6 linked regions of the Homo sapiens genome follow. The protein of the gene in region 1 interacts with the protein of each later gene in a pairwise test. Each region holds a gene or a part of one and is shown in the gene's direction. Other genes may lie near its edges. The genes, in order: BCAR1, NPHP1, EFS, E2F2, ANKS1A and PEAK1.

What was found.
Region 2: the proteins of BCAR1 (region 1) and NPHP1 interact in a two-hybrid assay, tested with the Homo sapiens proteins (2 studies listed by BioGRID).
Region 3: the proteins of BCAR1 (region 1) and EFS interact in a two-hybrid assay, tested with the Homo sapiens proteins (one large-scale study listed by BioGRID and IntAct).
Region 4: the proteins of BCAR1 (region 1) and E2F2 interact in a two-hybrid assay, tested with the Homo sapiens proteins (one large-scale study listed by BioGRID and IntAct).
Region 5: the proteins of BCAR1 (region 1) and ANKS1A interact in a two-hybrid assay, tested with the Homo sapiens proteins (one large-scale study listed by BioGRID).
Region 6: the proteins of BCAR1 (region 1) and PEAK1 interact in binary tests that used the Homo sapiens proteins (3 or more experiments, as listed by UniProt).

What each region holds. Positions count from the first base shown.
Region 1 is NC_000016.10:75,237,447-75,242,651, reverse strand, and holds part of BCAR1 (breast cancer anti-estrogen resistance protein 1), read left to right. Parts: coding exon 1-182; intron 183-3,991; exon of another isoform or gene 3,992-4,558; coding exon of another isoform or gene 4,559-4,561; intron 4,562-5,205. UniProt on the Homo sapiens protein: Docking protein which plays a central coordinating role for tyrosine kinase-based signaling related to cell adhesion. Implicated in induction of cell migration and cell branching. Involved in the BCAR3-mediated inhibition of TGFB signaling.
Region 2 is NC_000002.12:110,193,796-110,199,000, reverse strand, and holds part of NPHP1 (nephrocystin-1), read left to right. Parts: intron 1-5,205. UniProt on the Homo sapiens protein: Together with BCAR1 it may play a role in the control of epithelial cell polarity. Involved in the organization of apical junctions in kidney cells together with NPHP4 and RPGRIP1L/NPHP8. Does not seem to be strictly required for ciliogenesis.
Region 3 is NC_000014.9:23,358,068-23,362,905, reverse strand, and holds part of EFS (embryonal Fyn-associated substrate), read left to right. Parts: intron 1-2,072; coding exon 2,073-2,351; intron 2,352-2,624; coding exon 2,625-2,765; intron 2,766-2,866; coding exon 2,867-3,589; intron 3,590-3,940; coding exon 3,941-4,030; intron 4,031-4,838. UniProt on the Homo sapiens protein: Docking protein which plays a central coordinating role for tyrosine-kinase-based signaling related to cell adhesion. May serve as an activator of SRC and a downstream effector. Interacts with the SH3 domain of FYN and with CRK, SRC, and YES.
Region 4 is NC_000001.11:23,507,234-23,512,438, reverse strand, and holds part of E2F2 (transcription factor E2F2), read left to right. Parts: intron 1-2,290; coding exon 2,291-2,559; 3' UTR 2,560-5,205. UniProt on the Homo sapiens protein: Transcription activator that binds DNA cooperatively with DP proteins through the E2 recognition site, 5'-TTTC[CG]CGC-3' found in the promoter region of a number of genes whose products are involved in cell cycle regulation or in DNA replication.
Region 5 is NC_000006.12:35,081,255-35,086,459, forward strand, and holds part of ANKS1A (ankyrin repeat and SAM domain-containing protein 1A), read left to right. Parts: intron 1-1,436; coding exon 1,437-1,562; intron 1,563-1,900; coding exon 1,901-1,972; intron 1,973-2,162; coding exon 2,163-2,249; intron 2,250-2,863; coding exon of another isoform or gene 2,864-2,866; coding exon 2,867-3,004; intron 3,005-4,511; coding exon 4,512-4,682; intron 4,683-5,205. UniProt on the Homo sapiens protein: Regulator of different signaling pathways. Regulates EPHA8 receptor tyrosine kinase signaling to control cell migration and neurite retraction.
Region 6 is NC_000015.10:77,412,651-77,417,855, reverse strand, and holds part of PEAK1 (inactive tyrosine-protein kinase PEAK1), read left to right. Parts: intron 1-5,205. UniProt on the Homo sapiens protein: Probable catalytically inactive kinase. Scaffolding protein that regulates the cytoskeleton to control cell spreading and migration by modulating focal adhesion dynamics. Acts as a scaffold for mediating EGFR signaling.

The sequences.
Region 1 (5,205 bases):
AGACACCCCATCACCCGTTTCCCAGCCCGGCCACAGACCTGTACCAGGTGCCCCCAGGGCCTGGAGGCCCTGCCCAGGATATTTACCAGGTGCCACCTTCTGCCGGGATGGGGCATGACATCTACCAGGTCCCCCCGTCCATGGACACACGCAGCTGGGAGGGCACGAAGCCCCCGGCAAAGGTAAGGCTGTCCTGGCACAGTTGTGCAGCCACACAGGTATAGCCCAGGCCCTGGTTTGTGGGCACAGAAGGGTCCAGCCACCCTCAATCACCGGCATTCCAGGAGTGGCTGTGTGTTTGGTCTGGGGTCAAAGTGGGAAGTGAGTGTTTGGGGGGTGTTCATTTGTCCGGGGAAGATGGATGTGAATGGACCCAGAGGGGAGATGCTCCGCTGGCCTCAGCCAAGCCGACCCGAGTGGTGGTGTCACCAACCACAGGGAGCAGCCTGTTGAGGCGTTCCAGTGGGCAGGCGGGGCTTGGCACATGGGGTCGGCAGTTGCTGGGCCCCCGCAAGGGAGAGGCCAGCCACTTCATGCTCAGGCTCCCCTGTGCCATCTGGGTTTACGTGTCAGCCTCTAGATGGGGTTCCGGCACATCTTCTGGCCGCCCCTGCCTCCACAGGCCAACCCCTCTCCACTTATGGAACATGCTAGGGGCCAGCGGGTGCGTATGGTGATCTGGATGTGACTCCTGGGAGGACGCTGCCCCTGAGATTGCTAGAGGAGGACTGCCCTGAGAGCCTCCTGGGCTCTTGCTGATGGGATGCTGGGCCTGGGGACAAGACCTCTGGCCTCCAGACCCTGAGCCCGCTTCCCAAGTCCACAGGGCCCCTGCCTCCCAAGCTCACCTGCCTGTAGGAAGGAGTCAGCACTAGACACTCAGCCCAGGGCTGAGGTGGAGACCTCATTGGTGCCAGCTGGGCAGCGAGTCAGCTGGGAGTTACCCCCACCCCCGCCCATGGGTGGCCTGGTACCCAGGAGGCATGGCCGGAGGTCGTTGGCGGGTGGGGGACTCCATGGACATGGGCCACCAAGCCTGGCCACCAGGGGAACCTGGGTCACTGGCTCCCACTTCCTGCTCTACCTGCTCCTTCAGCCATCTGGTCAGAGGCGAGCCTGGCTGGCGTGGGGTGCCTGGGTGGGGGTGCTCCCAAACTGGCTTTAGCAAGAGGAGCAGGGTCCTGTTATCCCCTGGGGAGGCGGCAGGGAGCAGTGTCCTGTAGGGGAGCCTCAGGCCACAGTCCAGGTATACCCACACCCCACACAGATGAACACACGTGCATGATGCCTGTACCCCACAGATACGAACACCCATGCACACACCATATGCACGAACACACACATGCGCTACATGAATGTGCGTGAATACATGCACATATCTGCATCCCATACCCCATAAATGGACACACGTATACGCCCACACATGCGCACATCATATGCATGAACACGCACACACCCAAACCCCATATGTGTAAACACACGTGCATACTCACCCCACACACAGACACGTGTACGTCCACACATACAAAGCGTGTGCACCCACCAGTATCCCACAAACGTACAAATGTATGTGCGTATGCACACGCACACACAGTCCACACTGCACATGCCCCAAGGTCAGGCACATCCCCACCCCTCCTCTCCCGCCTTTGCAGTGAAGCTTGTCCTGGTGCGGCTGGAAGCCCTGTGGGCTGGGGAGCAGCAGCGAGACCCCCAGACAGAGCCCGGCCTCGAGGCTGTGTTTTGGCAGCTGTTCTGTCTCCGTCTCCGGCAGGGGGCCTGCTCTCAATTGCATCAGGGGCTCAGCCAGCTGGGTCCTTCTCTGCCCATGCCCACTGGTAGAGCTGCCCAGACCTGTGCCCCAAGGGCCCTGACCTGGCTGATGGCCCAGGAAGGAGAGCCCTGTGTCCTGGGCCTGGCTGCTCTCCCCCAGGAAACCTCCCCCAGTCTTGATTGTGTCTGCTTGTATTTTATGATCACAAAAGCAATGCTTGTTTGCTGTAGAAAATGCATAATGTATGGGAAAGTCTGGAGATGAAATTTTCCAATCGCGGTAATCACTGGGAAATTCTGGCATATTTTGTCTAGTATCTGCCCTGTGTTTCACAGATTTATACATGCAGTTTTGCATTTCAAAGTTGTAAATCCAACATTAGATATCAAAAGCATTTTGTTGAATTCTTAAAGCTTGTCCCTGAGCCGCCTTGGACTTTGCTGGGTTGCCCCCTCTGCTGGGGCGGGCCCTGGGCAGTTTCCGATTGCTCATGCCTTCATTACGGTGGCACGGCGGTAACACCTGGCTGCGGGACATCTGTGTCTGAACCTCCAGGTGCTCCCCTCCAAGCCTCAGGCCTGCCCCTCAAATGCCTGGGAAACTGAGTCTCCCAGTTCCAGGGTAGTGGTTGGCTGGGCTGAGAAGGAGCCCTTGCCAGGACTTCACGTGGGCGGGAGGGACACTGGCTCTCAGGAAGCCAAGAGGGTGAGTGACAAGGATGGTGGCCAGGAGGGTCAGAACCCTGGGCCCTGGAGCAGGGTCCAGTGGTTGCTAAGGTGGGAGCCTGGTGGCCCGTATGGCTGAGGGAGAGGTGAGGGCCACACTGGCACCGAGACTCTTTGGGCCGGGTGTGGGCTGTAGGAATCTGAGGGCAGAGGCTCTTTCATGGTCAGATGGGACCCCCGGGGGAAGGCGTCTGTGGGAGGTCGCTCAGGTAGTGCCCCTGGTCAGTGTCTAAGGAGACAGCCATGGCGTGAGGTCAGGCGTGCACGTGGTCCTGTCGGGCCTGTGTTTCACCCTCCTCGCCCTAGAAGCTTCATCTTGCCCCAGGCTCCCCTGTGCTGGGACCTCAGGCTGGGGTGCCTGGAGCTGGGGAGGGAGGGGAGCGGGCTATGGTGGTGGCCCCTCAGGCCACCATGACCCAGGTCGGGTGAGCCCCTCATGCTGGGGTGTGTCCTGGTGGCCGTGGTCGCAGCGCTCCTGTGGTGCTCCATTTCCCAAGGAGGAAACGAGGCTCCTGGATTGGGACCTGGGGGTGCCAGAGCCGGGAGCCAACCCAGGTCAGGGGCGACACCCATTTTGCAGAAGGGGGAGACCAGCCACTGAGCTCCAGGGCGGGGGCCCACTTTGTCCCCTTCCTCCGACCTGACACCTGCCTCTGGGGCCCTTACCGGGAGGCTGGGATGTATTCCTGAGTTCGCTTGTCCCCCCGCTTGATGCCTGATAGTAGGGGAGGAGAGGGGCGGCACCCTGGCCCTGGGGCTGCCTGGGTTCTGTGCGTGCACCTGGCAGTGGGCCTGTGCTGTGTTTTCTCTGCATTGTATGAGGCATGTGTGTCAGAGACCGTGTGGGTCTTATGTCAGTGACTGTGCCTCTGTTCTCTCCTCCTGGGCTCTGGCTGTGTTCCCCTAACCCCCGGGGGACCTCCACGGCCTGCTAGTGGGGTCTCAGGTGTGCAGCAGGGTGGCCTGTGATTAGCAGTGGGGCTGAGTCATTCCCCTAAAGAGCTTTTCCCCCTGGTGGCTGCGTTGCTCTGTTTTTCTAACAGAAACATTTGGTCACTGTGGCTGCCTACTGCCACCCGACTCAGCTCCAAGAGTGGCAGGCGGCCATTTGCCTGGGGAGGCAGGCCTGGGTCCAGCTGCACCCCTGGGCCTCACCGCGTGAGGTTGGGATGGCCACCGGCAGGGTGCTTTTGGAGGATGCTCATCCCTCCTGCTGGTGCTGGGTCCTGGCTGAGCCTTGAGGCTGGGTCCCCACCTGCCTTTGGGAGGCTGGGAGGCCTGGAGAAGCCTCAGGCCGTGCCTCGAGGCCCAGCCAACCTGCCACGTCCCTCCGCCCCGCCTGCCCCGCTGTTGGCAGGTCCCTGCATCTAAAAATAGTTCTGGAGGAGACTCAAGTCTGGGGCGCGTGGAGGGAGATGAGTCTGGAGAGGCAGCCGCCAAATCCACTCCCAGACGCACTGGAAGGGGGCGGGGACACCCCACGGAGGCCCCCAGCCGGGACTCTGCTACCAGGCGTGCTGGAGACCTAGTGGGCCCAGTTCTGCTGCGCTGCGGGGGGCTCTGCCAGGCCTGCGGCTGCTGGGGGGTGCTGGCGCCTCTGCCACCCCCATGCTCAGCGCCCCCCTCACAGCACCCTCAGCAAGCAGGGCTGGCTGCCTGCCTGCATTGGGAGGGCCTCTAGGGGTTCAGGGGCACTGGGCCCGGGGGAGGGGCTGCTTTGGCGCTGCTGCCCTGGGGGATGTGCGGGGAGGCCCTGAGTCAACCCTGTCCCAGACATCCCCTTTGATGAAGGAACAAAAGGTCTTTCAGTGGAGAGAGCTGAACAGGGAGCCTGGTGGTGGAGGCGTGTGGGCGCAGTGTGCCCGGGGGCTGGAGAATCCCACCAGGGAGGCCTTGACCTCCCCAAGGCAGGGAGACCTTCAGGGAAGGAGGCTGCCTGGCATGGCCCCTACCCGCTTCAGGCTGGTGCTGGTGAGGGGTCCTGTGGCCCTGGGCAGGCCATTGTGCTGCCTGCCTCTTCACCCACTGTGCGGGCCTTGGCTTCCCTGGGCTCTGGGTCATGGTAAGAGCACCTGGGGAGGGGAGGGCTGGCCCTGGACCCACTTCCCCCACTAGGCCTCATCCTTTCAGGTCGCTGGGGATCTTACCTGCTGCAGGCAGCTCCCCCGGGGCAGGCGCGGCAGGGAGGGGGCCTTGGTCCCAGCTGCTGCGCCCCCCAGCACACACCCAACCTGCCCCTCTGGCCCTGTCCTCCAGAGTCTCCCCATGCTGTGCTGTGGGGCAGGGGGTGCTAGGCTCTATCTGGTCCTGGGCCGGATGCAGTCCCCTGCTGGGCCAACCCTTCTGAGGAGGCTACAGCTAGGTGGTGTGGGCAGCAGACTCCCAGGCCTCCGACGTGGCCTCTTGTCCTGTGGGGCTAGGCGCCCCAGTAACGGGGGGTTCCTTGCCTGTGGGTAGTGCCCTCCAGAGCCAGGGCCTCAGCCCCTCACCCCACCGGTGTCATCAGCTCATACCCATGCTCCTCTGTGGAGCCTTCTGGGTCAGCAGGCTGTAGAGACGTTGGTGTCCTGGCCCAGGACGAGGCAGCTCTGAATAAAACCCAGAGTTCTTGCCGTACCTGGCACTGCGTTCTGCTAGAGGAAGGTCAGATGGTGCAGAGGGGGTGAGAACTGGCATCCTTGGGGAGCCCCGTCCCTTCCACCTGGT
Region 2 (5,205 bases), on another chromosome or scaffold:
CTGAATTGTCTTTGCTTTCTCTGGGCTCAGATTCCTTTTAATTAGTTAATTAATTAATTTATATTTGGTTATTCTTAAATTTTATCTTCACGTTGCCGGTTTTCTTTATTAGGTCTGGCTTATCTATTTTTATTGAACAATGAGGGACTAGGTTGATTATTCCAGAGAGCTCTCATGGGCTTTTCTACTGTTAGATAGAGAGGGGTCCTTCCTGCTAGTACCATCCCCTGAATAAGAATGAAATTTTGTATGTTGATAGGGCTTATCAGAGGCTCGGAAGTAGCTTTTAGTCTGAGGATCCCCCAGTGCCAGAATAGGGCCGGCTCTAACCCTGGTGTATGGGAAACTTCTTTAGCAGTCATGATTCTCTTCAGGTCGTTTGTTAATTGTTTTTGTTTGTTTTTTTGTTTTTAGGGAAGAATCCCCTGGTAAGGAGGGAGAGCAGAGAGGGGAAAAGGGAGCTAACTGGCTCAGGTTTTCTGTAAATAGACTTTTAAAAGAAAGAACCCCAACTAAATCTAAACGTAATCAGTATCATTAATCTTCCCTTGACTAATATAAAGACCTTAGATTGCTTTAACATTGATTTCCCTCCTCAAAGCTTAGATGTATGCATATGATTTAATTTACACAATATAACACAATAATATTAGATAATTTATAAAGTAAACCCCAGCCACTGTGCATGTCTTTTCATCAGCAGAATTTCATAATGTGTCCCTCTATGATTTAGTTTAGTTAACCTTTGGTCCTTTATGTCTGCTGACTCAAGTCCTAGAGTTTTCGGCCTGGCAGATTATCTCCCTCTTATGCTTGTGTTGCGTCTTCCACCCTTTATAGGAGAACATGCTTCCAGCCTTTTTCCATGGAGCAGAAATTTGTTGAAATCTCTTGCTGGCTAGTTGTCCTTCTTTCCTTCTTTGCAGTGTTCAGAGTTTGTTACCTTTTCAAACGTTTTAATCATTTTTTGTGGGGTTTCAGGAGCCAGTGAAGATGAATGTGTGCTTAGTTTTTATCCTGAACCAGGAGTCTTAAAATATCAACTGTTTGAGGATTTTAATAATTACATAGTTATAAAGGAGGTAATTGTAATAAGTAATTTATTTTCTTGGTACATTATATTAAAATAGTTTTCCACTCTGGGCTTTAAGCGAAATTTCTGAGTCTAAGTTTCAGTAGAGATTTTTTTGGTCAAGTAACATGACACCTGCCAAAATAAGCGGCTTTACTGTCAGTCTCATTTGACAAAAGCCTGCAGCTAGGTTCTCTCAGGGTGGATTCATGGCTTGTGATATCCTCAAAGACCAGCCTTTGATGTCATTCCACTCTGCCATCCTTTGCTTGTTGGTGATGTCTCTCCTCATGGTTACAAAGTCCATACCCTCAGTATCTAAGAGCAGATGTAGGAGAGATTCTTTTCATGCCTGGTAAGGGAGGATAAAATGGGAGGCAATCCCAATATACGTGTTTTATGTTACACTGGCAGCCGTGGGCCCCCTGCTCACCCTGCCTGCAGTGGAGGCTGAGAACATAGGTGCCAGTGGGAAGCTGACTGCCAGCAAAGAGGAAGGGTGGGAAAGGGGCTTTTGGGGAGGTTGCTAGTAGGGTCAGCCCCAGTTTGATGTTTCCCCTTCTCTTTTGCTACCCTTTTGACAAAGGACTTTTGTTCCCTTTAAAACGTTTTTTATTTATTACTGTTTTTTATTTTTTTCTTTAAGTTCAGGGATACATGTATGGCATTGTGCAGGTTTGTTACATAGGTAAACGTGTGCCATACTGGTTTACTGGACAGATCATCCCATCACCTAGGTATTAAGCCCTGCATCCATTAATTATTCTTCCTGATGCTCTCCCTCCTCTAATACCTCCTTCCTACAGGCCCCAGTGTATGTTGTTACCCTCCTTGTGTCCATGTGTTCTCATCATTCAGCTCCCACTTATAAGTGAGAACATGCGGAGTTTGGTTTTCTGTTCCTGCATTAGTTTGCTGAGGATAATGACTTCCAACTGTAACCATGTCCCTCCAAAGGACATGATTTTGTTCCTTTTTATGGCTGCACAGTATTCTATGAGAACATGCAGTGTTTGGTTTTCTGTCCTTGTGATAATTTGCTCAGTATGATGGTTTCCAGCTTCATCCATGTCCCTTCAAAGGACATGAACTCATCATTTTTTATGGCTGCATAGTATTCCATGGTGTATATGTGCCACATTTTCTTAATCCAGTCTATCATTGTTGGACATTTGGGTTGGTTCCAAGTCTTTGCTATTGTGAATAGTGCCACAATAAACATATGTGTGCATGGGTCTTTATAGCAGCATGATTTATAATCCTTTGGGTATATACCCAGTAATGGGACAGTTGGGTCAAATGGTATTTCTAGTTCTAGATTCCTGAGGAATCGCCACACTGACTTCCACAATGGTTGAACTAGTTTACAGTCCCACCAACAGTGTAAAAGTTTCCTATTTCTCCACATCCTCTCCAGCACTTGTTGTTTCCTGACTTTTTAATGATCGCCATTCTAACTGGTGTGAGATGGTATCTCATTGTGGTTTTGATTTGCATTTCCCTGATGGCCAGTGATGATGAGCATTTTTTCATGTGTTTTTTGGCTGCATAAATGTCTTCTTTTGAGAAGTGTCTGTTCATATCCTTTGCCCACTTTTTGATGGCGTCGTTTGTTTTTTTCTTGTAAATTTGTTTGAGTTCATTGTAGATTCTGTATATTAGCCCTTTGTCAGATGAGTAGATTGCAACAATTTTCTCCCATTCTGTAGGTTGCCTGTTCACTCTGATGGTAGTTTCTTTTGCTGTGCAGAAGCTCTTTAGTTTAATTAGATCCCATTTGTCAATTTTGGCTTTTGTTGCCATTGCTTTTGGTGTTTTAGACATGACGTCCTTGCCCATGCCTATGTCCTGAATGGTAATGCCTAGGTTTTCTTCTAGGGTTTTTATGGTTTTAGGTCCAACATTTAAGTCTTTAATCCATCTTGAATTAATTTTTGTATAAGGTGTAAGGAAGGCATCCAGTTTCAACTTTCTACATATGGCTAGCCGGTTTTCCCAGCACCATTTATTAAATAGGGAATCATTTCCCCATTTCTTGTTTTTGTCAGGTTTGTCAAAGATCAGATAGTTGCAGATATATGGCATTATTTCTGAGGGCTCTGTTCTATTCCATAGGTCTATATCTCTGTTTTGGTACCAGTACCATGCTGTTTTGGTTACTGTAGCCTTGTAGTACAGTTTGAAGTTAGGTAGCGTGATGCCTCCAGCTTTGTTCTTTTGGCTTAGGATTGACTTGGTAATGTGGGCTCTTTTTTGGTTCCATATGAACTTAAAGTAGTTTTTTCCAATTCTGTAAAGAAAGTCATTGGTAGCTTGATGGGGATGGCATTGAATCTATAAATTACCTTGGGCAGTATGGTCATTTTCACGATATTGATACTTCCTACCCATGAGCATGGAATGTTCTTCCATTTGTTTGTATCCTCTTTTATTTCATTGAGCAGTGGTTTGTAGTTCTCCTTGAAGAGGACCTTCACATCCCTTGTAAGTTGGATTTCTAGGTATTTTATTCTCTTTGTAGCAATTGTGAATGGGAGTTCAGTCATGATTTGGCTCTCTGTCTGTTATTGGTATATAAGAATGCTTGTGATTTTTGCACATTGACTTTGTATCCTGAGACTTTGCTGAAGTTGCCTATCAGCTTAAGGAGATTATAGGCTGAGACGATGGGGTTTTCTAGATATACAATCATGTCATCTGCAAACAGGGACAATTTGACTTCCTCTTTTCCTAATTGAATACCCTTTATTTCCTTCTCCTGCCTGATTGCCCTGGCCAGAACTTCCAACACTATGTTGAATAGGAGTGGTGAGAGAGGGCATCCCTGTCTTGTGCCAGTTTTCAAAGGGAATGCTTCCAGTTTTTGCCCATTCAGTATGATATTGGCTGTGGGTTTGTCTTAGATAGCTGTTATTATTTTGAGATACGTCCCATCAATACCTAATTTCTTGAGAGTTTTTAGCATAAAGGGTTGTTAAATTTTGTCAAAGGCCTTTTCTGCATCTATTGAGATAATCATGTGGTTTTTGTCGTTGGTTCTGTTTATATGCTGGATTACGTTTATTGACTTGCGTATGTTGAACCAGCCTTGCATCCCAGGGATGAAGCCCACTTGATCATGGTGGATAGGCTTTTTGATGTGCTGCTGGATTTGGTTTGCCAGTATTTTATTGAGGATTTTTGCATCGAGGTTCATCAGGGATACTGGTCTAAAATTCTCTTTTTTTGTTGTGTCTCTGCCAGGCTTTGGTATCAGGATGATGCTGGCATCATAAAATGAGTTAGGGAGGATTCCCTCTTTTTCTATTGATTGGAATAGTTTCAGAAGGAATGGTACCAGCTCCTCCTTGTACCTCTGGTAGAATTTGGCTGTGAATCCATCTGGTCCTGGACTTTTTTTGGTTGGTAAGCTATTAATTATTGCCTCAATTTCAGAGCCTGTTATTGGTCTATTCAGAGATTCAGCTTCTTCCTGGTTTAGTCTTGGGAGGGTGTATTTGTCGAGGAATTTATCCATTTCTTCTAGATTTTCTAGTTTATTTGCATAGAGGTGTTTATAGTATTCTCTGATGGTAGTTGGTATTTCTGTGGGATCGGTGGTGATATCCCCTTTATCATTTTTTATTGCATCTATTTGATTCTTCTCTCTTTTCTTCTTTATTAGTCTTGCTAGCGGTTTATCAATTTTGTTGATCTTTTCAAAAAACCAGCTCCTGGATTCATTAATTTTTTGAAGGGTTTTTTTGTCTCTATCTCCTTCAGTTCTGCTCTGATCTTAGTTATTTCTTGCCTTCTGCTAGCTTTTGAATGTGTTTGCTCTTGGTTCTCCAGTTCTTTTAATTGTGATATTAGGGTGTCAATTTTATTTCTTTCCTGCTTTCTCTTGTGGGCATTTAGTGCTATAAATTTCCCTCTACACACAGCTTTAAATGTGTCCCAGAGATTCTGGTATGTTGTGGCTTTGTTCTCGTTGGTTTCAAAGAACATCTTTATTTCTGCCTTCATTTCGTTATGTATCCAGTAGTCATTCCGGAGCAGGTTGTTCAGTTTCCATGTGGTTTAGTGGTTTTGAGTGAGTTTCTTAATCCTCAGTTCTAGTTTGATTGCACTTTGGTCTGAGAGACAGTTTGTTA
Region 3 (4,838 bases), on another chromosome or scaffold:
AAGAAAGGGACAGACCTCCAAGCAGTGGGTCGCAACGGTAATCCCAGGTATTTAGGAGGCTGAACCCAGGCATTCGAGGTTACAGTGAGTTATGATTGTGCCACTGCACTCCAGTCTGGACCACAGATCAAGAGCTGATCTCTAAAGAAATATTTTAAATAAAATTTTAAAAGAAAGAGACACAGCCAAGACTCAAGCCCAGGTCTGCCTCTAGAACTGTGCTTTTAATCCCCTGGCTAGATCCAAAAGACTGATTTATAATTTACAACTAAAAAGAAAAGTGCAGCACTAACCGGGAATTTGTGTCATCTGGTTAGCACGTTTCTTTGTGTGGGACAATATCCTTTAGAAACCAAAATATAATCAGAAAATGGTTTGATGAGTTGGGAATCAGGCAAGAAGAGGGGTCAATTTGTTGTTAAAATCACCCAGCCATGAGAGGCCGGATAACCTCACCACCAGAGGGAAACATCAGCTAAGAGGAATATGCACTCCTGCTGACTCTAGCAGGGCATCCTTCTCCCCAGGGTCTGGTGGCAGCCTGCCTGAGATCTTTAACTTTGAGATTTTTTTGCTGAATTAGTCAGTCCGTTTGGCTACCTGGCTAGTAATGCCTAACTAGCTGCTCTCCAACACTACATGTAAGTCACCACTGCCTGGGATCCTACCAGCAAGCATCATCATTTAGCAATCAAAACTGAAGCTGAATGTAATTGTATGTTTTGAGTGGTTTTAGCTTGATTCTACCAAATGACATCATGGAGCAAGAGCACTGCGAAGGGTTATAGCAAAGGGAAATAGGGTATAAGAAGGCTTTCCTATGCGCTTGACTTGCTTTTGAGTTAGGGACCCTCTCAGCCACTGTTACTACTCTTTCTTTTAAGTAGATTCCTACATTTGTAATTGTGGAGAAGCAGTAGCACAAGTGATTGAGAGCGCAGGCTCTGGGATCAAGCAGCTTAGGGTTCAGATTATGCTCCACAAGCTGTGCCAGCGATATGGCATCAGACAAAGTACTAACCTCCCTCTTCCAGTTTTCTTTCCAAAATGGGGTAATGACAGTCCCTCCCTCGTAAGGTTGTTGTGAGAATTAAATGAGATGAGTTGATTAATGCAAAGATTTGCACAGTGTCTGGAAACGTTGTTTGCACTTGGTACCTGTGAGTTATTACCTGAGCCTGTGGCCCTTGATGGAAAAAGCTTATAAGCCCCCACCAGACAGGACTGGAAACAGAATGATACATGTTTCCTTTTGGTTGGCCTGCCAACCCCCTTCACACACACACACAAAGACACACTCTGTCCTGCAATGGAAGGGCCCATTGCTAAATGATGATGCCTGCTGGAAGGATCCCAGGCAGTGGTGACACACACACAAGAATACACACTTTTCTCCATGGTAACCTCAGCCTCTTCTGGTAGAAACTTATTTGCTCAGACTGAGAGCAAAACAATTGCTTTGTTTCTGTTTTCTTTCTTATTATGCCTAGGCACACTGTCTGGACTAGGCCTCTCCCAGTCTCTCAGAATGAGAGGTCTCTGTGGCTGCTTAATCTAACCTTTTGCTAGTGAGGGATAATGACTTGGGAACAGAGAGAAGGTCTATGAGAGACTGTAGCAGGGCTTCACATGTTTTGGAAGACATTCATTCAACATGTGTAATGACCAATTCCAGGTCAGGCCTTATTGCAAGGACTAGAAATATAGCCGTTCCTATGTTCATAGGGTTTACAGTATAAGGGAAGAAATCGATACAAAAGAAGCAAATAGACAAATAGTATAAAGTACGAGGATGGAAACAATAGGTGGAGACAAACAGAGAATGGGGCGGGGAGAAGAGTAAAGAATCGGCCTCTCTGAGGAGAGCTGGTCTAGTTGAAGGAACTGAAAGGAAGAGGGAGAATGCAAGCGGTGAAGCTGGAGAGAAGCTAGGGCCCAGGCAGAAAGCTGCATCCAGAGTTCAGGTTTTTTAGCTTGAGGGAAATGCGGAGCTCCGAAGGGTTCTAAGCAGGGGTGACGTGACCTGAAAGGGGTCTGAAGACCCTTCTCCCCACTCCCACCTCCCCAACCAGACCCAGCTGGCCCGGGCACTGTATGACAACACCGCTGAGTCCCCCCAGGAGCTGTCCTTCCGCCGAGGGGATGTCCTACGGGTCCTGCAGAGAGAGGGCGCTGGTGGACTGGACGGCTGGTGCCTCTGCTCCCTACACGGCCAGCAGGGCATTGTGCCCGCCAACAGGGTGAAGCTCTTGCCTGCTGGCCCAGCACCCAAGCCCAGCCTCTCTCCTGCGTCCCCAGCCCAGCCTGGCTCACCATATCCAGCCCCAGATCACAGCAATGAGGACCAGGAGGTGAGAGTGGGAGCCTCCCCAACCCCAAGCCAGAAGAGCCCCATTCCTCCCCAACTAGCCCCACCCAGGGCCTGCAGCAGGTGGGCAGGAAGAGCCCTGAGGCCACAGCTCTTCACTGCTCTGCGCTGGACGAAACCTGTCTACCAACCTTTCTGAGCTGTGGCCCTCTCGATACAGGGAGAGTTAGAAGGTCTCTAAGCTCCTCGCACTCAGACATTATCTGATCACCGGCCCCTCCGTTCCTCCTGACCCCCCATCTATTTGATCCCTCAGGTGTATGTGGTGCCGCCCCCAGCTCGGCCCTGTCCAACCTCAGGACCTCCAGCTGGACCTTGCCCACCCTCTCCTGACCTCATCTACAAAATCCCCAGAGCTAGTGGGACCCAGCTGGCTGCTCCCAGAGATGCCTTGGAGGTGAGGGCTAGAGGTCCCTGTGTATGTTGGGTGGGAGACAAATGGCCCCAAGGGAGGGTTCATCGCTGAGCTGACAGATGACTGACCACTCCTTTCCGCAGGTCTACGATGTGCCCCCCACCGCCCTCCGGGTGCCCTCCAGTGGCCCCTATGACTGCCCTGCCTCCTTTTCCCACCCTCTGACCCGGGTTGCCCCGCAGCCCCCTGGAGAGGATGATGCTCCCTATGATGTGCCTCTGACCCCAAAGCCACCTGCAGAGCTGGAACCAGATCTGGAGTGGGAAGGAGGCCGGGAGCCGGGGCCCCCCATCTATGCTGCCCCCTCCAACCTGAAACGAGCGTCAGCCTTACTCAATTTGTATGAAGCACCCGAGGAACTGCTGGCAGACGGGGAGGGCGGGGGCACTGATGAGGGGATCTACGATGTGCCTCTGCTGGGGCCAGAGGCTCCCCCTTCTCCAGAGCCCCCTGGAGCCTTGGCCTCCCATGACCAGGACACCCTGGCCCAGCTTCTGGCCAGAAGCCCCCCACCCCCACACAGGCCCCGGCTCCCCTCAGCTGAGAGCCTGTCCCGCCGCCCTCTGCCTGCCCTGCCTGTCCCTGAGGCCCCCAGCCCCTCCCCAGTGCCCTCTCCTGCCCCAGGCCGGAAGGGCAGCATCCAGGACCGGCCTCTGCCCCCACCCCCACCCCGCCTGCCTGGTTATGGAGGCCCCAAGGTCGAGGGGGATCCAGAGGGCAGGGAGATGGAGGATGACCCAGCAGGACACCACAATGAGTACGAGGGCATTCCGATGGCCGAGGAGTATGACTATGTCCACCTGAAGGTGAGCGCCCCTTGGCAGCCCCACCAGGAGGGACCCCAGAGGGACCAAGGGGAGGGGTGTGGAGACCTAGGGCACAGAGGCAGAGCCTCCCTGCCTCCCTTCTGTCCCCCTTCCCTCTACCCTGCAGCCTGGGACCCCAGTACTTGGCCACAACACTTGTACCAGTGCCACACTGTTCCTCCTAGACCCAGCCTGGGGCCACCAGAGCTCTCTGGAGTCAAGGGACTACAACCTCTGATAACAGGAGTGTCCTTCGGAAGGAAGGGGGTCCGGGGAAGGGGCAGAAAGGCCACAGAGGCCACCCCGTCCTGCTCCCCCACCCCGACACTGAGACCTGATCCCCTCCTGCAGGGCATGGACAAAGCTCAGGGATCTAGGCCCCCGGATCAGGCCTGCACAGGGGATCCTGAACTGCCCGAGAGGGGGATGCCGGCGCCGCAGGTGACCCTGGCGGGAATGGTGCTAGAGAAGGGGACAGGGGAGGGAGGAATGGGGACTTGGGAGAAGAACTGAGCCATCAACCGTGGAAGGAAATAGGTTAGGATGGAGTGAGAGTTCACAGGAACCAGGGACAGAGCGGAGGCAAGTTAGAAATCTACAGGAAGGAACTGGACCTTGGAAGAGGATGTTAGGAATTCAGAAAGAGGGGAAAGAATGTGTTGGAGAGGAGTCAGAAAATCAAGCAGCCAGGAGAGCAGAAAGTTTCTGAGTTGTGGGGTCAGAGCTGGGCCTGGGGACTTCTGAGCCTCCTTCCAACTGTGAATTCCTGGGCTCCTAAGAGACCTGGCTTCTAATCCCAGCTTCACTACTGAGAAGCCAGGGGCTTTGAAGCCGTCAGTTAATCTCTCCAGGCCTCAGAAAGTGAGGTGGTTTCCTCAACCCTGCGTAGAATGGTCGCAACACAATAGCTACCATTTATCAGGTATTTACCAAGTGCCAGACCCTGTGCTAGGCACACTGCACGTGTTAGTATTAATCACAGCCACAGTTAACACTCATCTGGTGCTCACAGTGTGAAATGCACTTTGCTAAGCCCTTTCTGTATATTATCTCAATTGACCTTCACTGCAGCCTCATGAGGTACATACTAGAACTGCACTATCTAGTACAGTAGCCACTAGCTACATATGGCTATTGAGCACTCAAGATAGGCCTAGTTCAAATTGAAATATGCTGCAAATATAAAATGCAGCCTGGATTTTACAGACTCAGTATGGGAAAAATCTCAATAATTTTCATGTTGATTATA
Region 4 (5,205 bases), on another chromosome or scaffold:
GGACTTCTTTGGGCCCTAGTTTTCTCATCTGTAAATAGGGGTAACAGCATGGACTCCCTCAGGGCCATTTGAGTGTGCAAGGAGGCTGAACCACGCCTCGCCTCAAGGGCAGTGCCACCACCTCCCCCATTAGCCTTGGTAAATGGGAGCAATTTTTAACAGGAGCAAGGGCAGCATGCAGACCCGACAAACCAGTGCTTATTTATTTATTTGTTTGTTTATTTATTTATTTTTATTTTGAGACACGAGTCTCGCTCTTGTTGCCCAGGCTGGAGTGCAGTGGCGTGATCTTGCCTCACTACAACCTCCACCTCCTGGGTTCCAATGATTCTCCTTCCTCAGCCTCCCTATTAACTGGGATTACAGATGCCTGCCACCATACCCAGCGAATTTCTGTATTTTTAGTAGAGACGGTGTTTCACCATGTTGGCCAGGCTGGTCTCGAACTCCTGACCTCAGGTGATCTGCCTGCCTCGCCCTCCCAAAGTGCTGGTATTATAGGCATGAGCCACCGCACCAGGCCAAACCAGTGCTTCATATGCACTTACCATGCGGTCCTCTGAGCAACCCTTTGAGGTAGGTAGTGCTATGCTGCCCCATGCAGAGGGGAGAAAATGGATGCTCTAAAACGTGAAGTCCAGAGCAAGACTCCATCTCAAAATAAATTAAATAAATAAATAAAATGTGAAATCACATGCCTATGGGTGCACCACCAGTCTCAACAGGCAGCCTAGCATCCCAGCGCAGTTGTATCTTCAGAATAATACTTGGCTGGGGCTTAAGGAGTGACTGCAATGTGGGGGATTCTGAGCATCAGGATATATGTGGCAGGCAATTTCCAGTGCTTCATTGCATGTCCCTGTATGGGAAATCACCGTCTTAACATCTAAGTGGAAATGAGCAGGTTGGGTGTGGTGGCTCATGTCTGTAATCCCAGCACTTTGGGAGGCTGAGGCAGGAGGATTGCTCGAGCCTGGGAGTTCGAGACCAGCCTGGGCAACAGAGTGAGACCCTGTCTCTACAAAAAAGTTTAAAAATTGGATGGGCATGGTGGCACGCACCAGTGGTCCCAGCTACTCAGGAGGCTGAGGCGAGAGGATTGCTTGAGCCCAGAAGGTTGAGGCTGCAGTGAGCCGTGTTCACCCTACTGCACTCTGTACTCTAGCTTGGGCAAGACCCTGTTTCAAAAAAAAAAAAAGAAGGCGGCGAGAAAGAAATGAGCATAGAGTGCTGGAGAATGGCTACTGAAAGGTCAAATAAGATGAAGCCAGAGAAATGACCATTGGGTTTAGCAGCATGGATGTCACTGGCTCAGGGACATGGTGGGGAGAGACCCCAGACTGGAGTGAGTTGAAGAGAGAATAGTAATAGGGAAGTGGAGACAAGCTGAGGCTACTCTGGAGAAAGTTTACTGTGCAAAGGAGCAGAAAAATGGGCCAGTAATTGGAGAGGGTGATGAGGTCAGGTATAGTTGTGTGTGGTGGAGAGTAGAGGCAACATAACAAAAATTTACCATCATAACTATTTTTAAATGTACAGTTCAGTGGTAATTAATACATTCATAATGTTGTGTAACCATCACCATTCATCTCCATAACTCCTTTCACCTTGTAAAACTGAAACTCTGTACCTATTCCCCATTCCCCTCTCTGCCCAGCCCCTGACAACCACCCTTCTACTCTCTGTCCCTGCGATTTTGACTAAGTATCTAATGTAAGTGGAATCACACAGTATTTGTTTTTTTGTGATTGGCTTATTTCACATAGTTTAATGTCCTCAGGGTTCATCTATGTTGTAGCATGTGTCAGAATTTCTTTCCTTTTTGGCCGGGCACAGTGGCTCAGGCCTGTAATCCCAACACTTTGGAAGGCCGATCACTTGAGGTCAGGAGTTCGAGACCAGCCTGGCCAACATGGTGAAACCCCATCTCTACTAAAAATACACAAATTAGCTGGGTGTGGTGGTGCATGCCTGTAGTCCAGCTACTCGGGAGGCTCAGGTGGGAGAATCGCTTGAACCTGGGAGGCAGAGGTTGCAGTGAACCAAGATCACAACACTGCACTCTAGCCTGGGTGATAGAGTGAGACCCGGTCTCAAAAAAATAAAAAATACATGAAAAGTTGTAGGGTTGGGTGTAGACTCTGGAAGGTGGATTTTGAGAGCACGACAGTCCACCCAGGCTAAGGAGAGAGAAGAAGGGTGCAGTCATCCAGAGAACCGGAAGTCTGTCCTCGCGTGCTGAGGAGTTGGATGCTAGGGCCAGGCGTAACCTTTGTCTGTTTGTCTCCAGTGCCAGCACCAGCGCCAACCCCCCAGCAGGCCCCACCGCCTCCATCCCTGGTCCCCTTGGAGGCTACTGACAGCCTGCTGGAGCTGCCGCACCCACTCCTGCAGCAGACTGAGGACCAGTTCCTGTCCCCGACCCTGGCGTGCAGCTCCCCTCTGATCAGCTTCTCCCCATCCTTGGACCAGGACGACTACCTGTGGGGCTTGGAGGCGGGTGAGGGCATCAGCGATCTCTTCGACTCCTACGACCTTGGGGACCTGTTGATTAATTGAGTGGCCCTGCCTGCCCCCAGCAGCCTGCCCCCGACTCTACCTCCTCACAGACAGGCTGACAGCCCCTCTGCCTGCACAGGGACATTGGACACTAGGTGCTGCCCTCAGGGCATGGGGTCTCCTCGCCTTTCCTGCCCCAGCCGGCAGAAGCTGTGTGGGGAGATATGAATGGTACGGGTGAGGAGTGGATAAGGGGTGGTCCTCACCTTCCTAATGGAAGCTGGGCCTAGGGAGGCCCATCCAGTCTTCTGACTTCTGACCTCTCACAAGAAGGCTGCAGGTGAGGTGGCCAAGTCCAGGGAAAGGCCCTGCTACCTCCTTTTGAGGGGTAATTAGGACCCTCGACGTACCAAGAAGCACATAATGCCTTTGTATTTATTTCAGGTTGAGTTGTTTGTTTGTCCTCCCTGAGTTTTAGCAGGGAGGTTGTTCTAGTTTTTAGTGAGACCTCTGCAGACAGGCCCATCACTGTCCATGTTCCAGGGCAGGTCTGGGTTTCCAAGGGAGGGGCCCAGGCTACATCCTTGGTTTCCCCACTGTGGTGGGGGCTGGGACTCTGAGGGGCTGTCCAGTCTGCTAGAATGCTAATTGCACTTAGGCCTCATGGTTCTAGTAAACGGCAGCTGTGGGCCCTTTTGCCTCTTCCCCTGTTCTTGGCCTCACATCTCCAGCTGAGCTGCCGGTCTTGGCTTCCTGGTCGCCTCTGTCCCAGAGATGGTCCCAGGGAGCCATCCTAGGGCAGGTAGCACTGAGGCTCCTGTGGAAACAGGAGCCACCTGCTCAGGAGACCCCTTTCCTGAGGAAGTCCTTACCTCTCCCCTTGAGATGTAAAAATGGTCCAGCAGAGACAAGCTCCCGTGGAAAACAGACAGGAGCATGGGGGCAGCTGTCATGGCTGTGGCGGGCACTTTTCCTCAGAGTTTCTGCCTTGCGCTGGTCCAGGAGCCATTTTGCACCAAGGACTTGGTAGGCAGAGGCAGCCCCACTGTAAAGAAGGGTCAGATTAAAACAAAAAACTGCCAAAAGCATCCCCTCTGCCCCCCATGTGGCACTGGCATCATTCTCTGCTTCCCTGGGAGGAATTTTTTCACCATGTTATTGAAGGGGATGGTTCATTAAGGACTCCACCCCTCAGAGCTCACTCAGACCCCAAGGACAGAGGTGACTGGGGCTTGGTGACTTGTTCACTCCTTTTTTCCCAGGTATACTGAAGGGGTGACAGAGAGAGGTCTTCATGGCAGACCAGGCCTTCACAGCTAATGGGGAGAGGAACTCATGTTACCTCTGCAGGCCTGGGGTCCTGAGGGGGTCTTTTGGCTTCAGCCTGTTCCCCCAGAGGCTTGATCATCCCACATTGTCCCTTCAGCTCAGCTGCTCTTCTCCCCCACCCACCCTGGGATGTGGGTGCTCTGGGCTGAACCAAGGCTATGACTTCTGGAGAGAGGCTCAGGGGTTGGTCTGAGAGGCCTGCCATCCACCCCTCAGGGAGCTAGGTTTTCTCAGAGGCTCAGCTGGACAGCACTTTTTAGAAAAGTTTGTAGCATTAAGCTGGTTTAAAATATGAAGTTGGTTTTGTTGGATGGCTCCTGAGCTGACTGACTGATGTCTGAAGTTTGAGACGAGGGATTATTTCAGGGTGGGGCCCAATGTGATCTAATGCCCAGCTGGGGACAATTGTGCCTCATCATTTGCTCAAATTCCTGGGCCCCCAAGTTAGCCCCCTCCCAGGAGTGGTCAGCGGGTCACAGCTGCCCCCACTCTATAAGCAGGGCTAATTGTGTACCCTTTGCAGAAATGCTTTTGGTCTCCTACCCAAATACTCACAAGGGTCTTATCAGACGCCCGTCTTAAAGTCCAGCATGCTCAGGGACCCTGTGTAGGATCTCGTTTGTGGTGAGTGGGCTGCTCTGAGGTCTCCACTGGGCTGCCATTTAGCCATGTGCCATCTCTGAAGTCAGAGGTGTTTGACTCCCATTCCTTGGGCTCTGGAGCTTTCCCCAAGAATTACATCAGAGAAAAGGAAGAAGGGGCCTGCAGGACCCATTGGGAATGAGTTTAATACTGAAGTCTGGAATGTAAGCTCATGCCCTAGAGGCCTCTCCATATGGCTGGTCAGGGGAGCTGCCTTCAGGCTTGTGCCCCGTGTGCTCAGCAGCTGCCTCTGTCCCCCTCTACTGTCCCTTTCACACCTTGCCTGGCCAAGGGGCTAGACCTCCCAGGCTAAGCCTCAGATTCAGTGCAGGACACAAGCTCATGCCCCCGTCTTGCCAGTGACACTTGAAGCCTCCCGACTTCCACAGAGTGCTTCAGGACACATTTTGAGTGGTATTTTCTTTTCTTTTTTTCTTCTTTTTTTTTTTTTTTGAGATGGAGTCTCGCTCTGTTGCCCAGGCTGGAGTGCAGTGGCCTGATCTCGGCTCACTGCAACCTCTGCCTCCCAGGTTCAAGCGATTCTTCTGCCTCAGCCTCCAGAGTAGCTGGGACTATAGACATGCACCACCACGCCCGGCTAATTTTGTATTTTTGGTCGAGACGGGGTTTTGCCATGTTAGTCAGGCTGGTCTTGAACTCCTGACCTCAAGTGATCCACCACCTCGGCCTCCCAAAGTGTTGAGATGACAGGCACGAGCCACCAGGCCCAGCCTG
Region 5 (5,205 bases), on another chromosome or scaffold:
CAGTTGGGCTGGCACCAGAGTCAGGAGGCACTAGCCTGCTCTGCTCGCCCACACCCAGCCGCCTTGCGTAAGGCCCACCCAGCACCCATGGTGCCGAGCTCGGGCCGCACAACTCACTTTAGCTGTCAGCTGCTGGGGCCACTCCTGTGTCCTGTACTTCCCTCCCTCAGGGGTTCAGATCCCCTGTCCGCTCTTTCTCTGTGGCCTCTTGCGTCCTGCACTGCCTCCCCTGCTGGCCCCAGAGCCCTCTGTGCTCTCCTGGCCTCTGAGCTCCTTCTTGGCCCCTTCCTTCTCTGCTTACCCACGTTGTTCCCCAGAACTGCTTTCCCTGCAGCTTCACCTCGGCAGCATTCTCTTCCTCCTGCTCAGCAAAACCACAGCCAGACCAGATTCTGTTCTTCCTGTTCTCTGCCTGCAGCCCCGTGGGGGGCACCGCTGGAGACGCCTCCTCCGCTCCCGGTGCCCGCTCCAGCCCTGGCGGAGGTGGGCCCGTCTCACACTCCTGGCTCACCTTCTCAGGGCATCATTTCCAGGGGTCCTGGATTTACTCAGGACCTGCCTGTCCTGCCTCCCTCCTTGTACGGACCTTGGCTTTGTCCTTTGTCCTCTTCTTGGCCTGTCAGACACAGGATTAGCAGGTGTCCCTCAGGCCCCTCCGGGTGAACTTCAGCTTCACCCCTGCTTGTTTCTCTGACTCTCACTTCTCACTTCTGGCTCTGGGGACTTCCTTTCCCTTTCTACAAGCACAGCCATGAGTTTTAAAGGATTTTTAAACACATTGTCCAGCAATTCCGGTTGCTGTTGAGAGGCTCTGCGCACTGCTGGGAAGGGAGGGCCTCCGTGTTTCCTGAATCTTTTCCTTCCTCTCCATTCCTTCCACCAGTGCCCTGGACAGGGACCCATGATCTCTCACCTGGACCGCAGTGGCCTCCCCCACCCCCTAGCTGCTGCCAGAAGGATCCATTTGGAATGCATTCCTAGGCACGGGCGGGTGCTTCACTGGCTTCCCCGCTGTGAAGATCCCTCCCAGGCCCTGGGCTGGGTCCCAAGGCGTCCCAGGGTCTCGTGGGCGCTGTTCTCTCCTTTGGTCTTTGTGCAGAACAGCCTGGCAGCCTGTGCCCCCCACACAGACTCTGCCATCTCCTCTCTGGTCATTTCCCATCTCCTTTGAGACTCATCTCGGACACCACAGAGACTGTCCTTCCCAAGCCCTGCTCTCAGGCGGTTTGGGTCCCTGCTGTGCCTCTGCTGTGGCTAGCACCTCCCCTCTCCCGCAGTGTGTTTGAATTGCTGGTCTGCCCCCTGCCATCTCCACTCGACCCTTGAACTTGCTAAGGTCACTGGCATCTTCACCCTTGAGTGTGCTGGAGCCAGGCAGCAAGCCCATGTGCTCCTCTGGAGCAAGGAGCAGGTGTCCAATTGCGTGTGTTTCGCAGGAGGAGCACCGTGAGGCCAAGCTGACCCTGCGGCCCCCGAGCCTGGCAGCCCCCTACGCCCCAGTGCAGAGTTGGCAACACCAGCCAGAGAAACTCATCTTCGAGTCCTGTGGTTATGAAGCCAATGTGAGTTGCTCCCACCCTCCCAGCAGGGCCGGCCTCCCTGCTCCTTCTCGGCCAGGCACCTGCGGCCAAGTCCCAGCAGGGACTCCACAAAGCCAGGCCCAGGGCTTTTGAGCTGTTCTCCACTCTCAGCCACTCTTGACAGCTAAGGCGAAGGGGTGGAGGCCTCTGGATCCTTTAGCTAGGGAGTTGAATGGAGGGTCTCTCCAGCTGGGGCAGGAGAGGGGGTGTTGTTATTGAGAGGGGTAACTACTTGATTGTGGGACAGTCCCAAATTGGTTGGGTCACCCCTGCATGGAAACGCAGGATTTCCTAAGCCTGGCCACTGCTCGCCCCCACAGTATCTGGGCTCCATGCTGATCAAAGATCTGCGAGGGACAGAATCCACGCAAGACGCCTGTGCCAAGATGCGGGTAGGGTGCCTGTGTGGGCTGGAGGGCGCTGTGGGACTGGCCAGCAGAAGGCAGCAATGGGGGCAGTAGCTGCAGTTGCCTGGGCCCTGCTGCACTATGTAAGGATGGGAAGGAAGCTGGGACCTGTGGAAGCCCAGGAGGCTTAGCCCTGAGAAGGGGCACTGACAGGGCCACCCCTTGTTTCCTGTAGAAATCTACGGAGCACATGAAGAAGATCCCCACCATCATCCTGTCCATCACATACAAAGGTGTCAAGTTCATCGATGCCTCCAACAAGGTGTGCTGCTTACAGGGACTCTTGGTGGGAGTGGGACCCACATCCCCGTCAGACCCACAGGGCTCCAGGGCAAGCAACCCGGCTGCCCTGTCTCATCTCTTATCTCCCTAGAGGGTCCCCAGTCCTCTTATTACTTCCCACTTTGCTAAGAGGCGTGTCTCTCATCTGCTGGCCTGGGTGCCTGCTGTCAGCCCCGTCCCCGCCCTAGTGATCACTGCTGTTAGCCTCGCCACCTGGGCTCCACTGGCCGCACACCTGCTCACAGGTGTGATTCCCTCCGTGAGCAAAGGACTTTCTCTGTGTGCCACCGTGTGGGATCCCACCTTCCTGACACCCTTCCCACTTTGCCCCCACCCTGGAAGGTGGGAGGGGCTGGGGAGAGCTTGTGGTTGGGTGTGAACATTTTACTGCCTTAGTTGTTGTGGTAAGGGGTGGAGACCCCAAACCAAAATCGGGGACCCCCACCCCCACCAATAAACAAAATGAGAAGATGAAGGGGGGTTTGCTTGATGCTCTAGGCTGGGACAGAGAACAGTGACAATGGTAACAGGCTGGGGCAGGGGGTGCCAGAGGCATGCCTGAGCCTGAGAATTCCAGAACACGGCTTTCCCCAGCAGAACGTCATTGCAGAGCACGAGATCCGGAACATTTCCTGTGCGGCCCAGGACCCGGAGGACCTCTGTACCTTTGCCTACATCACCAAGGACCTGCAGACCAGCCACCACTATTGCCATGTGTTCAGCACCGTGGATGTGGTGGGTGGGGTCCTGGGGCCGGGTGGGGCAGGCTTGGGTTGCAGCCCTGAGGCGTCCAGCCCCATTGCAGGGCACAGATGCGGCGCTGTCCTGGCCCCTGGCCAGTGCCTGGCAAATGTTTGGTTCATGAATGGAGCCCAGCAGCACTCAGGCCGGTCCCCTTTCACAGTGATGAGACTGACGCGCAGAGGGAACAGGGACTGGCCCAGGGCACTAGGGACAGGAGGTTCCAGCTTTTTTTTTTTTTTTTTAAGAGATGGAGTCTCACTATGTTGCCCAGGCTTGCCTTGCACTCCTGGGTTCAGGCAAGTTACCCACCTCAGCCTCCCACGTAACTGGATAATAGGCGTGAGCCACCGCCCCTGACTTTCCAGCTTTTTGGCGAGTGTTTTCTTAGGTCAGGCAAGGCCTTTGTTTCCCCCGGCTCCCTGCCCTAGGTCTCCAACCTCTGGCTGGGCCGCCTCCCAGAAATGCCCTCTACTTCCCTCTTAGGGGCAGTGGTGCCCTCTTTGGCAGATTTTCTTCCCTCAAATTCCTGCTGAGGCTCGGCTCTGGATGCCACTGGGCCGAGGAGAGTTCATTCTCACACAGCTGCCCACAGGGAGCAGACCAGAACTGACAGCCCACAGGCGGGGGTTCCCTCTAACCTGCAACAAAGCATGAGAGTGGCCCCAGGCTGCTTCCTCACCCCGGGAGGAAGTCAGAGGGGTCCAGGTCTCTGCCGCCCTCAGGGATAGCAGCTGCTTCCAGAATCTCTGTGGCTCCTGGAATACAGGCAGCTCTGGGCATCCCCACACTCCTGGGACCTCATCCACCCCAGTCCTCTGTTTGCTCTGGGCCAGTGAAGGTTAGGAGGAACCAGGCTTTGCTGCTTGCTGGCTGTGTGAGCTTGGAAACATCGCATCTGCCTGCTTCCTCATCTGTCTGGAGGGGATATAATGTGGCCCACCTCAGGGGCCACTGTGAGATGGATGAGGTGGTCCACACAGCACAGTCAGTGGCATTTACCTGTTGCTGACTTTTCCCACATACACTCAGTTCTGCTGTAACGCCACACATACGCTCCTAACAATCACTGTGCTGTGTAAAATCACACAAGGAAAACCACAGGGTTTATGGGGAAATGGAGTTAGGGGCACAGCACTCACAGACTTTGTCGGTGACACATTAAAAATAAAAGCACTAGCACCACTTACATTAAATGGTAAGAAATACCCAAGTACTGCTGCAGGCACGGCACCCTGCCTTGGAAAAGACCTGCCGTAGGCTTACAGCAGTGTGCACCTGCCCTCCCCGCAGCCCAGCTCCCGGCCACATCCTGTGTAGAGCGGGAAGAACAACAGAGACCTAGGAAGAGTAAAGGAGGGAAAGGAGGGAAGAGTGGAAGGAGGTAGGAGCGCTCCCGGGTAGACTTAGAGGGGGACACATGGTCCCTGCGAGGAAGGGCATATCCAGTGTGAAGCGGCTCCTGAACCAGGTGCTTAAGTGGTGATCTGCTTCCTCCCAGAACCTGACCTACGAGATCATCCTGACGCTGGGGCAGGCCTTCGAAGTGGCCTATCAGTTGGCCCTGCAGGCCCAGAAGTCCAGGGCGACGGGCGCCTCTGCAGCTGAGATGATTGAAACAAAATCTTCCAAACCGGTGCCTAAGCCTCGGGTCGGCGTGAGGAAATCCGCAGTACGTGGGCCCCACTGGCCAAGATCCCCCTCTCCCTGGCCCCAGGGATTCAAGGGCTCAGGGTGGTCAGCGTGAGGAGGGTCTTCTGGCACTTCCAGAAAGCTGGCCCTCCAGGGAAATGACCCTCTTAATTGTCCCCCAACCCTGCCAGGTCTCGCCCCTGGAAAGGCAGCAGCTCCTCTGGCCTGGGCGGGCCTCTCATGCTCCTGTTTCCCTCCCTCGCTGGGCTCCCCCAAGGGCAAGGCCGTCAAGGGGCTGCAGAGAGCGGCCTGCAGGCAGCCCCCAGTAACTGCGCCATCCCTGTGTCTGTGTCTGCTTTGCTCTGCACCCCAGGTGCCGCTGCCCCCCGATAGTCGCTGTTGTTACTGTCACACCTGCACCACCCACCGTCCTTCCTACCTACCGCTGCCATCTGTTAGTCCTGGAGTCAAGGTCTTTACGCCTCCTGCTGTCTTGTGTGTCAGTCTCCCCGAAGTGACCGTGAGCGCTCTTAGCCTCTGGCGGCCTCTCCCTCTGCCTGTGT
Region 6 (5,205 bases), on another chromosome or scaffold:
ATAAGCATCAGCTATAAATTCATGCTTTGGCACATTTCATATAATAACTCTTCTAAATTGTTCCGTGGTGAAGCATCATGAGATTAGCATTTGCTTCATGAGAGAGATTTGTTGTTCTTTTTAACTGTACTGATGTGCTGTTTAAGTGGAACGGGTGCTGGGCCCTAGCCATTTGTGTTGATACCTGCCAAATCATACCCTTTTGTTGGATGGGTTGTTTAAGTAATTTAGTAACCAAACTGTGGCCCCTGGCATGCCAAGTGTGAGTACAAGGCTCCATATCAGTGTTGCAAATCCCTGTTTTCAGTGTAAGAGGCAGATGTGTGTGATGAGCGTTATTCTGTCATTTGCTGATCTCTTTACTGTGATTCCTACCTCTTGCCCCCCTCCCCCCCCGCCCCGCATCCCCCCACCCCACTCTCCTTCCTAGTCCTTTCATTACTAAAGCTCCTGGTACTTTCTAGGTTCCCTCAAGGCTGGTTTGTTTTCCTTAGTGAAGTAGAAATCCTAGTAACCTTCAGGCCAGGAATAGATAGTTTACATTTGTTTGACAAATGTTTGAGTACCTTTTAAGTGCCAGGCATGGTGGTAGGTAGGACCTGAGTATTATAGAATATGAGATTCCTTTTTGCAAGGAGTTTACAGTTGAGGAGGAGAAGATAGGTGATAACCAATAATTATAGTATGACAGGGGCATGCACACATTCCTATGGATGGAAGCACAGAGGAGGGGTAGCTGACTCAGACTTCGGGGGATGGGTGGAGGGTGTCTAGAATGCATCTTAGAGTGTTACCTGAGCTAATCTTCAATAATAGGTAAGAGTTAACTAGGTCCAGAAAGAGGGAAAGTACATCTTATACCAGTGCTGTCCTATAAAATTTAATACAAGCCACAAATATGTTACATATACAATTTAAAATTTTCTAGTAACCAAATTTTAAAAAGTAAAAAGTGAAATTAATTTTAATAATATAAACTCAGTATATCCAAAATATCATTTCAACATGCATTCAGTATAAAAAGTAATATTGAAATATGACATTTCCATTTTCATACTGTCTTCAGAATCTGGTGCATAATTTTCTACTGTTTTCAGAATCTGGTGTGTAATTTACACTTATAGCACATCTCAATTTGGACAACTACATTCACATACTCAATAGCTGCAGGTGAGTGGACAGCAGCAGCACAGCTTTAGAACAGGGGTGGATGAAGTAATAAGCCAAATCAATGATTGTCTTGTGAACCAAGTTAATAACTTTAACTTAATTCCAAAAGTTGCGGGGATTTAGTGGGGAAAAAAAATTATGCTGTGGTAGAATCAGATTTGTATTTTAGACCTGTCATTTTGACAGTGAAGTGAATATTGAATTAGAGAGGGACAAAACTGGAAGCAAGGACCAGTTAGGAAGCTATTCCTGGTGAGAAATGATGAAGAGTGTAGAAGAGGGAGTGGCTCTATGAGAGATTTAGGAAGTATTATTAACGGGACAGGATAAATCTATTTAGATTATAGAATTGAGCAAGATTGAAGATTTTGGATGATTCCTACATTTCTGTTGTGATCCGCTGAGTAGATTGGGCAAGCAGCTGAAGAGAAGCCAACCATCTGTGCCAGACAGACCAAAGATGAAAAAAGGAAATAGAGATTTGTCATGGAAGCTGAGGGAGAATATTATTTCAAGGGCTAGGAGTGGTCAACACTGTATCCTGCCTCCAAAAGGAAAAGTAAGATAAAGACCTAATGAAGTCTCTGAGACTTGGTGATTAGGATGTCTTTTATAACTTCAGCTAGAGCACTTAGCTACATTGTAATGCATGGGGGTGGGTGTTGAAAAGTGAATGACAACTGTAAGTGTAGCTAATTGAGAGGGGTACAATGTTTTCAACAAAGGACTCTGAAGGAGTCTTTAAGCAGGGGGAGATACTTGGGATTTAGAGAATCTTGGACATTCTTAATGTGAGCCTGGAAAGAGCCACTGGAGAGGAGAAACTGAAGAAGAGTGTATATGTGTGTGTTTGGTGGGCGTGGGAGACTGGCTGGTGGATGGAGACAAGGATTTGAAGGTAATAAGGAATGGGATCCAGGGCGTAGGCAGAGAAGTTGGTCTTAAGTAGAAGGTAGTCTCACTTTTCCAGTGAGCAGAAAGGAAGGAGATGGATGGCAATGTAAATAAGTTTGTAACTGACAGGGCAGGAAGGAAGAGTTGATGACATGTCTTGTGTAATTTTTGATCATCTGCTAAGAGTGAAGGGAACGTGGTAGAATAGGAGTTTTTAAACAATGTATGTGAGGCCAAGTGCTGTGGCATGTGCCTGTAGTCCCATCTACTCAGTAGGCTGGGGCAGGAGGATCGCTTGAACCCAGAAGTTGAAGGCCAGCCTGGGCAACATAATGAGACCCTATCTCTTAAAAAACACACACACAAACAAAAAAGCCAGGTAAAATTAATCCACCCCTGTGAAAGGAATGGAAAAAAAGATAGTCTGTAGTTTATACATACTCTTTGTAAACGGCTTCCAAGGGAATGGCTAACAGTGGATGGGGTGGAGGTAAGGGAGAGAGAGGTAAACAGACACATGACTAGGAAACTGAAGAAGGATTGTTAGTTACATGACTAGGAAACTGAAGAAGGATTGTTAGTTAGCATTGAGGACCTGTTTATTTCAGATTGTAGACCTCACATTTGTAGCAGTACCAATTTTCGTGGTTGATTTTTCTCCAGCAGTGAGTGATCAGACTATCTGAAGAAACTATTTAATACTCTCAAGAACCTTATGAGTTATGTATTGTTACTGTTACTCTCCTTGTTTGTAAGATGAACAGCTTGGGTTTAAATTCTGCCCAGGCTGTTATCTGCTGCTTTGTAGATATCTGTTTGGTAGAGATATCTGAAGGACAGTTGGTTGAGGGAATTAATGATATTGAGTATTGTAGCTCTACTGAAGAACTATGGAGTCCTCCTGGATTATGAGCTGGAAGCCTGTAAGGAGGTGATCCAGTTGGGAGAAAATGAGGAGCATGAAATGCTAGAAGTCAGTGTGAAGCTGTAGAGCAAATGAAGAGCAAATAATACTAGCTTCTATTTGTGGAGTACCTCCTATGTGCTAGACACTTTAATACCTAATTCTGATCCTAACACTAACTCAACAATTTTGTTATTTACCTTATATTATTTCCTTTGTTCTCCTTCAGATGAAGAAACTGAGGATTAGAAAGGTTAAATAACATATTCAGACACACCCTGTCAAGTGATGGAACCAGGATTCAAAGCCCATTCTTTCTTGTCCAAACCATGTTCGTTTCAAGTCAGAGGATAAGATAGAAAATACAGTAATTGGGCCTGGCATAGTGGGTCATACCTGTAGTCCCAGCACTTTGGGAGGCCAAGGTGGGTTGAGGTCAGGACATTAAGATCAGCCTGGGCAAAATGGTGAAACCCCGTCGCTTACAAAAAAAAAAAAAAAATACAAAAAATTAGCTAGGCATGGTGGTGCACACCTGTAGTCCCACCTACTCAGGAGGCTGAGGTGGGAGGATCACTTGAGCCTGGGAGGTTCAATCTGCAGTGAACTGTGATTGTGCCACTGCACTCCAGCCTGGGTGACAGAGCAAGACCCTGTCTCAAAAAAAAAAAAAAAAAAAAGAAGGAAAGAAGGAAGGAAAGACAGAAGGAAAGGAAGGAAAGAGAAAGAAGGAAGGAAGGAAAGAAAGAAAAGAAAGAAAATGCAGGCTGGGTGTGGTGGCTTATTCCTGTAATCCCAGTACTATGGGAGGCTGAAGTGGGAAGATCGTCTGAGCCCAGGAGTTTAAGACCAGCCTAGGCGACATAGGGAGGCCTCATCTCTAAAAACTATAATAAATTAGCCGGGTGTGGTGGCATGTGCCTGTGGGCCTAGCTACTTAGGAGGCTGAGGTCAGAGGATCACTTGAGCCTGGATGGTAGAGGCTGTAGTGAGCCATGATTGCACCACTGCACCCCAGTCTGGGCAACAGAGTAAGACCCTGTCTCAAAGAAACAAACAGAAAAACTGCTGCTATATACTCTTCACCTGGGTTCCTCTAATGTTAACATCCTACATAACCATGGTGCATTTATCAAGCTAAGAAATTAGTATTGGTACGATGCTTCAACCAAGCTTCAAACTGCTTTAATATTTTACCAGTTTTTCTAGTATTCTTTTTCCATTCTGTTATCCAAACCTTGATATTGCATTGCTTTAGTTGTCTTCTTTGTCTCTCCCAATGTGTGGCAGTTTCTTGGTCTTTTCTTATCTTTTATAACCTTGACACAAGTATTTTGTAGAATGTTCTTCAGTTTAGGTTTGTCTGATGTTTTCTCATGATTAGATTGGGGTTATGGATTTTGGGGGAGAGTACTGCAAAGGTGAAGTGCCCCTATTATTTCATACAGGAGGTGCATGATATCAAATAATTTATCACTTGTGAGCACTCTGTTACGGTGGTTTCTGCTAGGTTTGTCCACTGTAAAGTTACTATTTTTCCTTTCCCATAGTCCGTGCACTAGAAACAGGTTGCTAAGTGTAGCCCACACTTAAAGGGATGGAAATTAAACTCCACTTCCTGGAGGGAGAAGTATAAAAGAATTTGTGGACATATATTAAAACCACCACAGTAATTGGTAAATATTTTGAGAGAGCTACTTTGAGGCTTTGCCAGTATCCTGTTTCTGCCCACTAATTTTAGCATTCATTAGTGGATCTTGCCTGCAGCAATTATTGCTGTGGCTTCTGAAGGTACTTTTTTAAATTTTCCTCATTCTTTCTACATTTATTAATTAGAATTCTTCTATAAGGAAGGTTTTCCCTTCTATCTAATCATTTATCTCAGTTCAAATTCATAGATATTTATTTTATTCTTAGTGTTAGAATTAAATGCTATCATTATTTTGTTGCTCAAATTATTCCAGTTTTGGCCCTTGGGATCTCTTTTAGGTCTACTTCTGTGTCTTTTTGGCATATTTCTATCCTTTTTTTATGCGTATGTACATGCACACTTCTTTATTCTCTGACACTACCACATGCTTCAGGTTCATCTTGTTTTTTTTTCCTACCTCAGCCCTAGAATCAATTATTTCTCTAAGGAACCTTGGTTCCTTTCATTGGAGGATGATATTTTGAAGCCAAGATCTGGATGCTAAGTGTGCTCATTGCTGTGGAGTATCATTGCTCCTAGACTTTCT